Regions from separate parts of the Homo sapiens genome. Here regions 1 and 3 are each linked to region 2. Evidence: fine-mapped expression QTL. A gene starts in region 2. Each other region holds a variant in brackets. All regions are shown on one strand. Distances are from middle to middle. Region 1 overlaps GCC2-AS1 (GCC2 antisense RNA 1). Region 2 holds the start of GCC2-AS1 (GCC2 antisense RNA 1). Region 3 overlaps GCC2 (GRIP and coiled-coil domain containing 2).

The links. PIP is the estimated chance that this variant, and not a neighbour inherited with it, causes the effect. A credible set is the group of variants that fine-mapping cannot tell apart.
Region 1: its variant is the best candidate, but not a certain one, in a credible set for the expression of GCC2-AS1 in tibial nerve (GTEx, PIP 0.59).
Region 3: its variant is the best candidate, but not a certain one, in a credible set for the expression of GCC2-AS1 in lymphoblastoid cells (GTEx, PIP 0.50).

The regions. Positions count from the first base shown.
Region 1 is chr2:108,510,048-108,514,237 of GRCh38, reverse strand. It overlaps GCC2-AS1 (GCC2 antisense RNA 1), which reads left to right. Exons shown (of 3, transcript NR_135290.1): 2 at 2,226-2,308. Among named protein-coding and RNA genes, the nearest start is that of GCC2-AS1, 22 kb to the left of the region's middle. The variant C/T (reference allele first, on the strand shown) is at 2,087.
Region 2 is chr2:108,532,185-108,536,389 of GRCh38, reverse strand. It overlaps GCC2-AS1 (GCC2 antisense RNA 1), which reads left to right and starts at 2,171. Exons shown (of 3, transcript NR_135290.1): 1 at 2,171-2,561. It overlaps LIMS1 (LIM zinc finger domain containing 1), which reads right to left and starts at 1,920. Exons shown (of 10, transcript NM_001193483.3): 1 at 1,796-1,920. The coding sequence starts at 1,827. RefSeq lists silencers at 1,675-2,274, 2,763-3,057.
Region 3 is chr2:108,460,036-108,464,240 of GRCh38, reverse strand. The region is part of intron 4 of GCC2 (GRIP and coiled-coil domain containing 2); the gene reads right to left. Among named protein-coding and RNA genes, the nearest start is that of GCC2, 13 kb to the right of the region's middle. RefSeq lists an enhancer at 3,198-3,267. The variant GAAGTCTTTGTGACA/A (reference allele first, on the strand shown) is at 1,686.

The DNA of each region.
Region 1 (4,190 bases), 22 kb after region 2:
AACCTTTTGTCAAATTGCTCAGAGTAGGTTTCTACTTTGGTTATAAGGAATAAAATTCATGCTTTTGTGTACACACTAGACATCTAAAGCAATCAACTATAGTTAACAAGCAGTGCTCTTACCAAAAGGTAACTCTTACTAGAATCCGGCACACCATTTAATATCAGTATGAGCATATGGTGGGTTTAATAATTGTTTTCCATGTTTATAAGTTTTCTTTAGTTTTATAAGCAGTTAAAAAGAATCCCTTTCACTGAAATACAATCTGTGGTGGGACTTCTAGCTTTTCTCAATCTTACGCTGCTAGATTTATGTCACTGCCAAAGCTATGCAATGGGTGATATTTACACTGTGCTCAAACAAAGCAACCAGAAAAACACATATCACTGAATAATACAGATATTCTGAAGTCAAGCAAGCCAACTTTCATTAACAGATCAATTTCCTTAGAAAAGTTGATGAAACCAAAGACTGAAGTTCAAACAAAAAGCGCTCTCAAGGGCGTATGAATTTCTGGTAACTTATGGGGTAAGAAAAAGAGCAAGAAACTTGGAAGTAGGGAAGAGAAAAAAGAAAAGGAGCAAGAGGGGATAGCCAGCTCTCAAAAGTCTCCAATAGGAAAGCAAAATCTGTATCTAGCCAGTACCAACATGTGAAGAAAGAGTGAGCATAGCAAAATTTAGAAAGGTTGCTTGAAAACCAAACAAAAAACCAAACACCTGTAATCCTAGCACTTTGGGAGGGTGAGGTGGGCGGATTGCCTGCACTCAGGAGTTCAAGAACAGCCTGGGCAACATGGTGAAACCTTGTCTCTACTAAAATCCAAAAAAAAAAAAAAATTAGCTGCGCATGGGCTGGGCGCGATGGCTCACGCCTGTAATCCCAGCACTTTGGGAGGCCAAGGTGGGCAGAACACGAGGTCAGGAGATCAAGACCATCCTGGCTAACACAGTGAAATTCCATCTCTACTAAAAATACAAAAAATTAGCCGGGCGTGGTGGCCCGTGCCTGTAGTCCCAGCTACTCCGGAGGCTGAGGCAGGAGAATCACTTGAACCCAGGAGGTGGAGGTTGCAGTGAGCTGAGACCATGCCACTGTACTCCAGCCTGGCGACAGAGCGACACTCGTCTCAAAAAAAAAAAAAAAAAAAAGTCTCTTTTGGCCAGGTGTGGTGGCTCACACCTGAAATCTCAGCACTTTGGGAGGCCGAGGTGGGTGGATCACTTGAGTCCAGGAGTTCAAGATCAGCCTAGGTAACATGGCAAAACCTCGTCTCTACCAAAAACAAACAAACAAAAATTAGCTGGATGTGGTGGTGCACACCTGTAGTCCCAGCTACTTGGGAGGCTGAGGCAGGAGAATCACCTGAGACCGGGAGGCAGAGATTGCAGAGAACTGACACTATGCCAAGGCACTCCAGCCTGGGTTGACAGAGCAAGACTCTCTCTCTCTCAAAAAAGAAAAAACAAAAAGCCTCCTTTAAAAAATGCAGTTTGATGCTATAAATTTATCAGTTAATAGTTTTTGGGGAAAAAAATGTTTTCTGACATTTCAATAAGAGCTATAGACGAAGTCCAGCATTAGTCATCATTCTGGACTAAGTCGGGAAATCTGGAATCTCTTCCCAGCTCTGGGAGGTACAAAGTTTTAAAAAATAAGTTAAGGTCAAAATGTTAGAAAACATTCAATTTATTTCCTTATTAACTCAATTGTTCACTCATAAACGACAGTAACACTTGGTGCTATGGGTCATGCACTGAGGTCAGAACAAGGAACAGAAGAAAATGAGGTAAATTGATAAATCTTTTTGCAGGCTGAGAAGGGAGAGAATGCTGGCATGCCTACTCTGTGCTGGCTTTTTTTTGTTTGTTTGTTTTTGAGATGGCGTCTTATTCTGTTGCCCAGGCTGGAGTGCAGTGGTGCAATCTTGGCTCACTGCAAGCTCTGCCTTCTGGGTTCACGCCATTCTCCTGCCTCAGCCTCCCAAGTAGCTGAGACTACAGGCACCCGCCACTACACCTGGCTGATTTTTTGTATTTTTAGTAGAGACAGGGTTTCACCATGTTAGCCAGGATGGTCCCGATCT[C/T]GTGACCTCGTGATACGCCCACCGTGGCCTCCCAAAGTGCTGGGATTACAGGCGTGAGCCACCGCGTCCAGCCCTCTGTGCTGGGTTTTATGATGTCATCCAATAACTCACAGCTATGTAATTTATTTCCTTTTTACAGATAAAGAAATGGGGGCTCCGAGCAGTCAAGAAGAACATGCCCCAAGTTATTCGTCAGTGAGGCGGAAATTGTGGTGTACTTGTGTAAGTTCACATTTTATACTTTACCATTATACTGTGCTCCAAATTATCTGATATTTACTTTCAAAGCATGTGTAGAAAGTTTACTATGATGATGCAGAGACATTGTACAGAATCCAGTCCCTTGACTCTCAGGTCCCCAGAACACTCACTTCACGATTTTGTTGACCTCTTCTGTCAACTTAAACCTGGCACTCTCTTGGCTGGCTTTCTCTGCTCTTTCTGGGCACTCCAAAGCTTCTGTACTTACATGCTACAATTCCAGTCACAGGAAGATGCTGAGTTCTTTAGTCCCAGATCCATATTCCTGAGAAAACCTAATTGCCTAGGCTCAGGTCATAACTCTGTATCTGTTTCAGTTGATTATGGCTGGGCCTACTGCCCCTCTGTATGGTGGTGGGGCAGAAGTTCCCAGAGAGAGGCAGGGGTGACAGGGACTGTTGTCTCAAATGCTAGGCAGACATCTGGAGTGGTAACCACTACATCTGTTCACAGTGAGCACATCCTTGCAGGGAAACTGGGTTAATCATCTCTATTATTGAAACTCAGAGGTATAGTGTTTCTTCATAGGAATTTTCTTTCCTTATTTGAGATGGGGGTCTCACTTTGTTGCCCAGGCTGGAGTGCAGTGGTGTGTGATCTTGGCTCACTGCAGCCTCCCCTCCCGAGTTCAAGTGATTCTCCTACCTCAGCCTGCTGAGTAGCTGGGACTACAGGCATGGGCCAACATGCCTGGCTAATTTTTGTATTTTTCGTAGAGACAAGTTTTCACCATATTGGCCAGGCTGGTCTTGGACTCCTGACCTCAGGTGATCTGCCCACCCTGGCCTCCCTAAGTGCCGGGATGACAGGTGTGAGCCATCGCGCCCGGCCTATTTATAGGAATTTTCTGTAGGTATATAAGTAATAATTTGAAGGTCCCAACTAGATGCCTTTTCGTGTAACCGTATCTTGAATGGAACATTTTCTTTCTACGTAATTATACATAAATAACCCAATGCTTTTTAATACCCACGAAAAACCATTAGCTCAAAGACACTTGCAAACTTGTATCAGGTTGTTCTCCTTGGTGTGTATTAAGTTTGAAGCAAAGGGGATTTTCAGATACCAAGACGAAGCAGAAGTCTTCCACCAAGTTGAAATCATCACGTTGCAATTTAATCATATGATACAACCAATTTTTTGATGTGTTATGCCATTCGCCAAATACCAAAAATTTTTTAGGGGAAACTTTACATCCTCAATACTATACACTTCCAGCTACACCACCACCTAACAGGGACTTTAAAAAGAATACAAAGTATGGTATGCCTTCTCAGTGCCTTGTTAGTAATTCAGTTACAGTTCTGCCGAACTTTCTTTAAAGGAATACAATTCTCAATCTTACACCGTTCAGAGCACAAGCATAGCTTATTGTATACAAGAGATGTGCATCAGTTCCCACTCCTCAGGGACTGTATGAATTTGGCTTTTTTTTGACGGAGTCTCACTCTGTCACCGGGCTGGAGTGCAGTAGTGTGATCTTGGCTCACTGGACTCTGCCTCCCGGGTTCAAGTGATTCTCCTGCCTCAGCCTCCCAAGTAGCTGGGACTACAGGTGCACACCACTATGCCCAGCTGATTTTTTGTGTGTTTTTAGTAGAGATGGGGTTTCACCATGTTGGCCAGGATGGTCTTGATCTCTTGACCTCATGATCTACCCGCTTTGGCCTCCCAAGGTGCTGGGATTACAGGCATGAGGCACTGTGCTGGGCCAAATTTGGTTCTTAGAAACCAAGGAGTGATGTGTGCACCAGGCCCAGGGCTGAAGAGCTGCTTCTCACTAGATGCCTCTCTTGGTCTGGCTGCTGTGTCCAGTCCTATGCAGGGTTAGCTCTGTTCCTCC
Region 2 (4,205 bases):
CAGCAGTAGTCAAAGTCATAGACAGAAATTAAAATGATGGCTGCCAGGGACTGGCGGGAGGAGGGGAATGGAGAATTATTGTTTAATAGGTACAGAGTTTCAGTTTTGTAAGATAAAGATTTCTGGACATGTATGATGGTTACGGATGCACAATAATTTGAATGAACTTATTACTCTCCCTCCAAAAAGTAAATTACTAATGGTAAATTCAGGATGGGAAGGGGATAGGATGCGGAGAGACACTGGACCAGAGAGGTTTGAAGGTCTTAAAAGGAAACTATTATCTCCTTTATTACACTACATATCCGTTATTCTTAATATCTCACAAATACTTTAAATTTTATATCAACTTACTAGTCAATACTTTTTTTTAAGGAAAAAAGTCCATGATGAAGGAGTACAAATTATTGTTATCAAATCTTGAGCTTTGACTCTTTTTTGTTACTTGTGACCAAATGGCAGGCGTGCACTTCTGTAATAGAGCGATGAGCTGAATTAACTTGCTTGTGTCATGAAATACCATTTTTACGGGAAAGAACAACTGACAAACTAGGGTTATTTAAACCTGTATTGCCGGACACTTCCTTGAAACTGAACAAAGTGAGTCTGTCACTTTGAGGAAAACAATTGACAATATTTTGCTCCCAATGATAAAAAGCAAGCTTTCAACCGAAAATGAGAATTTTGGAAAACTTGTAAACACCACCTTGTATCTGACGGCTTTTAACATAAAGACTTTCCTAATGAAATCAATAGCGATGGTAACGAATGTTATTCGGCGCTATTAATGAAATGCGTCAGCTTGAGATCTGCCAAACTCAGTGAGCCAATATCTTCCAAACGACAAATATATGGTGTTACAATGGGTAACAGCTGCATTCAAACTGCAAGACAGACCAAGGAATTTTAACGTAACTGTGTGCAAAGGCCACTGACAGGAGCTTTAGCTGCATTCAAACTGCAAGACAGACCAAGGAATTTTAACGAAACTGTGTGAAAAGTCCGCTGACAGTAGCTTCAGATTCCACGTCCAAACCAGCCTTTGAGAAACTTCCACTTACGTAGTTTTGGTGTAGTAATAAAGAATACCCATAATTATCTGAAACAGCTATTAAGACAGTACTCACTTTTCCAACTACACATCTGTGTAAGATCAGATTTTCTTCATATAAAAACATACCGCAACAGACTGAACTGCAAAGGAGATGGGAGAACGTAGTTGTCTCTACTAAGTCAGACAACTCAAGAGATTCGCAAACTGTAAAGGACGCCAGTCGTCCCACGAACTCTTTTGTTTTAGCAAAACCCTATGTTGCATAAAAATGTGGTATGTACGTTAACATACCACGGATTTATTCAATGAGTTAATAGTAACTTCAGTGTCTCGGTTTTCCTTTCTAGTACAGTCTATGGAGATAGCCACCATTCCAGGTCCTCTAGTCCCAAGAGGGGTCCTGAGACCAAGACGTCTGCGACCCGCTGATCCCTACTGCTAGAAGATAAATGATTAGCTCGGCAAATACTGATTTGTCTTATGGAACTCTCGGAGCAGCGGGGCGGCGTCAGCGCCTGTGCCACCGCGGACACCCGGGAGTGAACAGCAGCCGTCTCCTCCGCGGGCCCGGACGCAGCCACGCCGCCACCCGAGCGCTGGGGGTCGGGGCTCCGGCCGACCGGGGGAGGCCGCGGGGAAAGCCCGGCCGCCCGCCCGCGCCAGGCCCGGCCCGGCCCGGCCCGAAGGCCCGCCGGGAGCTGCGGGGCGGACGTGGCGGGGGCCGCGCGGTGCGGCCCGTACCTGTGGGTCATCCCGGCCGCCACGCCCAGCATCTCTCCGCTTTCGGCCGCCGCCGTCTCTCAGCCCCTCGTCTCCCGGCGCCGCTCCAGCCGCGTCCTAGTCCCTCGCCGCCGCGGCCGGCTACTGGCGGGCCCGGAGCAGGAAGGGGAGGAAGGCCAGGGGCCGGCCGCGCGGGGGCGCGGGAGGGGGGGGAAGGCGAGGCGGGCCGCGCGGGAAGGCGGGGGAGGGGCGGGAGCGGCTGGGCAAGGAGGGGCGGGGACTGGCGGGGCGGGCGCCGAAGGGCGCGGACTGGAGAGGTAGGCGCGGGGGGGCGGGGCGTTGCGGGGCGGGGCGCGCATCAGACCCCGCCCCAACCCGTGGCTCGGGCCCGCCCCCATTTCAGCACCCCAGGCTAGTCTGGGAGGCTGGCGCAAACGCAGCGGGTGGCTGGGGTAGGGGCTCATTGGGAGCCCACGGAGCGCGGCGGCGGCTCGGGGGCCGAGTTCCCTACAACAAGGATGGCGGTGACGGGCGCAGGGAGCGGGGCCCGGCTCTCCTTGCCTCGAGGCTCCTCTGATTCCACTCGCGTGGCTGCGCGGCCCTGGCAGCGGCCTTCGTCCCGGGGGTGGGAGCTACACAGGGTTCCGCCCCGTCCTGGCGAGGACGCCTGAGGGGGCTCTGTGGTAAGGCTCTGTCGGGCAGGCCGGGCTTCCGGGAGGACCTGGTCTGGATCGGTCACCGCTGGGTGCCTGAGCTCCGCATGGAGCCTGCAGCCTTTGTTTAACTTGTGAGTTAAGAAAAGTTAACCTTTCTTGGAGAGTTTCCAGTCTTGCCTCTGCATCCTGTTCTTCCTTGCTAGCTCTCATTTTCTTCACCCATTCCGTCTATCAAAACCTGAAATTTTGGGGCCGGCGCAGTGGCTCACGCCTGTAATCCCAGCACTTTGGGAGGCTGAGGCAGGCGGATCACCTGAGGTCAGGAGTTCGAGACCAGCCTGACCAACATGGAGAAACCCCGTCTCTACTAAAAATACAAAATTAGCCGGGCGTGGTGGTGGCACATGCCTGTAATCCCAGCTACTCGAGAGGCTGAGGCAGGAGAATCGCTTGAACTTGGGAGGCGGAGCTTGTGGTGAGCTGGGAGATCGCGCCACTGCACTCCAGCCTAGGTAACAGGCTCCGTCCCAAAAAAAAAAAAAAAAAAAAGTGAAATCTCCAAAGGATTTAATAGATTTAATAGATAAGACAAGTTATTCATCCTGGGCATAAATGATCTCTCTCAGGATACCTGATTCTGTAACTATAGCTACTCTCTAGTAATAGAATGAAAACTTTGGTCTCCTGCCAGTCGAGGCATGTCGGAGGAAAACACTGGATCTATTTGATGTCCTCACATGAAAGTAAATTCCAAACAAAGCAAATAGTTAAATGTTCAAAAAACAAAAAAAAAAAAAAAAAAAAAGAGAGAGGTTATGAAAATACCAGAAGAAAACAAGGGAAAAAAACAAAAGTAAGGTTGGAGTGGTGAGAGACTTTTCAAAGAGCATATAAACCATAAAATTAAAAATTGATAAATGTAGGCCGGGCACGGTGACTCACGCGTGTAATCCCAGCACTTGGAGAGGCTGAGGTGAGTGGATCACCTGAGGTCAGGAGTTTGAGACCAGCCTGACCAACATGGTGAAACCCCGTCTCTAATAAAAATACAAAAATTTCACCGGTTGTGGTGGCGGGGTTCCTGTAATCCCAGCTACTTGGGAGGCTGAGGCAGGAGAATTACTTGAACCTGGGAGACAGAGGTTGCAGTGAGCCGAGATCGCGCCATTGCAGTCCAGCCTGGGCGACAGAGCAAGACTCTGTCTCTAAATAAATAAATAAAAATTGATAAATGTAACTACATAGAAATCTAAATTTTCTGCATAGCAAATAAATATAACAAACCCCAACCAAGAAAAATATTTGTAAAATGTATGACAAAAAGTTCTAAATTATTAAAAAAGTTCTAATTATTAAAAAAATCAGTACAAAAATGTTCAACTCAGAGAAAAACAGGTTTCTACAGAAAAATACAAATGATTTCTTAAAGTATCATAAAACAAAAATAAAATACAATTTTTCACAAATGCAAAGATGAAAAGTTTGACTATATATTGTTTTGATGAGGATATAGGGAAACCCTTTTTTCCTCCCCTAGAGGAGGCCTCTCTATGTTACCCACACTGGTCTTGAACTCTTGGACTTCAACTATCCTTTTGAATAGCAGGGTTTACGAGTGCACGTCAGCATGCCTGGCTAATTTATTGTTGATAGGAGTATAAATCCATACACGCTTTGTAAAGAACAAGTGGGCAATAGCTATCAATGTAAAATTCAGCTCTTCTTTGACCCAAGATATTCATATTTTGGAATTTATCTTACAAATGTATTCTTAT
Region 3 (4,205 bases), 72 kb after region 2:
ACCGCTGTGGGCCGACGCACAGGTGATGCTGCCTACCTATGGCTGCTCCCAGGGGAAGCAACTTCACTCTCCTTAGTCGCAGCGACACAACATGCTGCTGTCTCCACCTGAACATTCTGCTGGTGGCCTGGGACACTCACCCCACCCTTATAAACCACAGCCGGCATCTTTACGCACCACCGAGGAACCTAAGGGCACACAGCCTGTCCTGGCTCCAGCCCCTACCAGTACCTGAGAGCAATGTCCAGGGGACTAGGTATTGTCCAGCCCAGTCCATTACCAGTGGCACCTGCGCACTCAACCTGGGGCCTGAGATAGGGCCCACTTAACCTGCTGCTACCACCACAGCTGGCACTCATTGCCATGCACCACCTGTGGATATGGAGACTGGCCCAATCAACAAATCACAGTCACTGCCAAAACCAATGCTGATCAGTTAGGACCCAGAGGGTTGTCCCACCACTGCTGTTGCCATTTCCCATGCTACATCCACTGCCCAGGGGCTCAAGAACCCACCCAACAGCCTGGCCCACTGCTGCCATTCCCAGCACCTGATCAAGCTACCTGGAGGCTCAAGAATTGGCCTGCTAACACTGGTGCCAGCAGACACACTCTGGGGCCCAGGGACAGGCATGCTCAATCCACAACTACCACCACTGCGACCTGAAGACTGGCCTACTTGGCATTCCAGGCCCCAGCAAAACTTTACCACAGCCTCCACTAACAACTGCACCCTAAGTCACTGATGAAATCACAGACACCACTGATGCTGTTTACAGCCAAATAAGTCATACCGATCCTATGCTATTGCACCCACCTAGAATCAAAGCCACTGTGCTCTACCCAAGCAATACTAAAGATACATCTTCAGGAAAAAGTTCTTCCCTACAAAAGTAAATTAAAAAAACTGGAAAAAGTGACTATTATACCAGATGCACAGATATCAAGGTAAAGGACATAGAAAACATTAAAAAGCATGGAAATATGACATCTCCAAAGGAACACAATAATTCTCTAGCAACAGATCTCAATCTAAAAGAAATTCATAAGATCCTAGAAAAAGAATTCAAAATTTCGATACTAAAGGAGCTCAGTGAGATACAAAAAGTTTCCAAAAAACAATACAAAGAAATCAGAAAAACAATTCAGGATATGAATGACAAATTTACCAGAGAATAGATATCAGAAAAAAAGAACCACATAGAAATTCTAGAACTGAAGAATTCATAGAATAAAAAACAAAATACATTCAAAAGCTTCAACAATGGACTAGATCAAGCAAAAGAAAGAATGTCAGAACTTAAAGACAGGTCTTTTTTTTCTGATATAGTCAAAAAAAAAAATAAGGGTAAAAGAATTTTTAAAAATGAGCAAAGTCGGCCAGATGCGGTGGCTCATGCCTGTAATCCCAGCACTTTGGGAGGCCGAGGCAGGTGGATCATCTGAGGTCATGAGTTCAAGACCAGCCTGGCCAACATGGTGAAACCCTGTCTCTACTAAAATTACAGAAATTAGCTGGGCGTGGTGATGGGCATCTGTAATCTCAGCTACTCACGAGCTTGAGGCAGGAGAATCGCTTGAACCCAGGAGGTAGAGGTTGCAGTGAGCCGAGATCACGTCATTGCACTCCAGCCTGGGCGACAGAGCAAGACTCTGTCTCAAAAAAAAAAAAAAAAAAAAGAAGC[GAAGTCTTTGTGACA/A]TATGCAACTCCATAAAGTGACCAAATATTTATTTATTTATTTATTTTGAGACTGAGTCTCGCTCTGCCCCCCAGGCTGGAGTGCAGTGGCATGATCTCGGCTCACTGCAAGCTCTGCCTCCCGGGTTCACGCCATTCTCCTGCCTCAGCCTCCTGAGTAGCTGGGACTACAGGCGCCCACCACCACACCCAGCTAATTTTTTTTTATTTTTTAGTAGAGACGGGGTTTCACTGTGTTAGCCAGGGTGGTGTCGATCTCCTGACCTCATGATCTGCCCGCCTCGGCCTCCCAAAGTGCTGGGATTACAGGCGTGAGCCACTGCGCCCGGCCTCCAAATATTTATTTGAATTACTGGGGTATCTCAAAGCAAAGAGAGAACAGAAGGATTAGAAAACCTATTTAGTGGCCGGGTGCAGTGGCTCACGCCTGTAATCCCAGCACTTTGGGAGGCCGAGGCGGGCGGATCACGAGGTCAGGAGATCAAGACCATCCTGGCTAACAGGGTGAAACCCCGTCTCTACTAAAATACAAAAAAAAAAAATTAGCTGGGGGCGGTGGTGGGCGCCTGTAGTCCCAGCTACTCGGGAGGCTGAGGCAGGAGAATGGCGTGAACCCGGGAGGCGGAGCTTGCAGTGAGCCGAGATAGGCCACTGCAGTCCGGCCTGGGCGAAAGAGCGAGACTCTGTCTCAAAAAAAAAAAAAAAGAAAAAGAAAAAAAAAAAGAAAACCTATTTAGTGGCCAGGCACAGTGGCTCATGCTTGCAATCCCAGAACTTTGGGAAGCTGAGGCAGGTGGATCACCTGAGGTCCTGAGCTCAAGACCAGCCTGGCCAACATGGTGAAACCCCGTCTCTACTAAAAATACAAAAAATTAGCTGGGCATGGTGGCAGATGGCTGTAATCCCAGCTACTTGGGAGGCTGAGGCAGGATCACTTGAACCCGGGAGGTGGAGGGTGCAGTGAGCCAAGATTGCGCCACTGCACTCCAGCCTGGGCCACAAGAGTGAAACTATGCCTCGAAAACAAAACAAAACCAAAAAATACCAGAAAACCTATTTAGTGAAATAGTGAAATAATACATGAAAACTCACCAAGTCTAGCAAGAGAGGTAGATATCCAGATATAGGAGGCCCAGGTATCCCCAAACAAATACAATGCAAAAAGGTATTCTCCATGGCATATTTATAGTCCACTGCCATAAATCAAAGACAAAGAGAATTCTAAAAACAGCAAAGAGGAAAAAAAAAAATTCAGCAAAGAGAAAAGCATCTAGTCACCTATAAAGGAACCCCCATCAGACTTACAGCAGGTTTCTCAGTAGGAAGCTTACAGACCCAGAGAAAAGAGAAGAGAAAAGAGAATAATATATTCATTGGAGATAAGAGAATGATATATTCAAAATGCTGAAGGAAAAACTCCCAGCCAAAGTGTATTAGTCTGATCTTGCACTGCTGTAAAGAACTATCTGAGCCTGGGTAATTTATAAAGAAAAGAGATTAAATTGGCTCATGGTTCTTCAAGCTGCATAGGAAGCATGGCTGGGGAGGCCTCAGGAAACTTACAATCATGGCAGAAGGCAAAGAGGAAGGAGAAGGAGGCACATCTTACAGGGTCGGAGCAGGAGGAAGAGAGTGAAGGCGAAAATGCTACACACTTTTAAACAACCACATCTCATGAGAAGTCACTCACTATCATGAGAAAAGCAAGGAGGAAGTTCATGTTCATCCCCATGATCCAGTCACTTCCCACTAGGCCTCACCTCCAACACTGAAGATTACAATTTGACATGAAATTTGGGCAGGGACACAAATCCAAACCATATCACAAAGATACTATAATCAGCAAAATTATCCTTCATAAATGAAGGAGAAATAAAGTCTTCTCCAGACGAGCAAAAGCTGAGGGAATTCATTACTACTAGACCAGACCTACAAGAAATGTTCAAGAAGTCCTAAACCTGAAAGTGAAAGGATGACATTTATGATCATAAAAACACACACAAATAGAAAACTCAGTGGTAAAGCAACACACAAATAAGGAAGAGAAAGGACTCAAATGGTACTACCATAAAAAGACAGCAAACCACTATAACAAACAATAAGAGAAAGGAACAAAGAATATATAAAGCAACCAGAAAACCGTTAATATGACAGAAAAAAGGCTCACATATAATTAATAACTGCATGTAAATGGAGTTAAGCTCTCCTCTTAAAAGATACAGGCTGGCTAAAAGGATAAAAAACATAATCCGACTACGTGCTGCCCACAAAAAATGCACTTTCCCTGTAAAGAGACATACAGACTGAAAGTTAAAGCATGGAAAAAGATATTCCATGCAAATAGAAACCAAATGAGCAGAGAGAACAAAAGGATTAGAAAATCTATTTAGTGGCCAGGCACGGTGGCTCATGCTTGTAATCCCAGCACTTTGGAAAGCTGAGATGGGTGGATCACCTGAGGTCAGGAGCTCAAGACCAGCCTGGCCAACATGGTGAAACCCTGTCT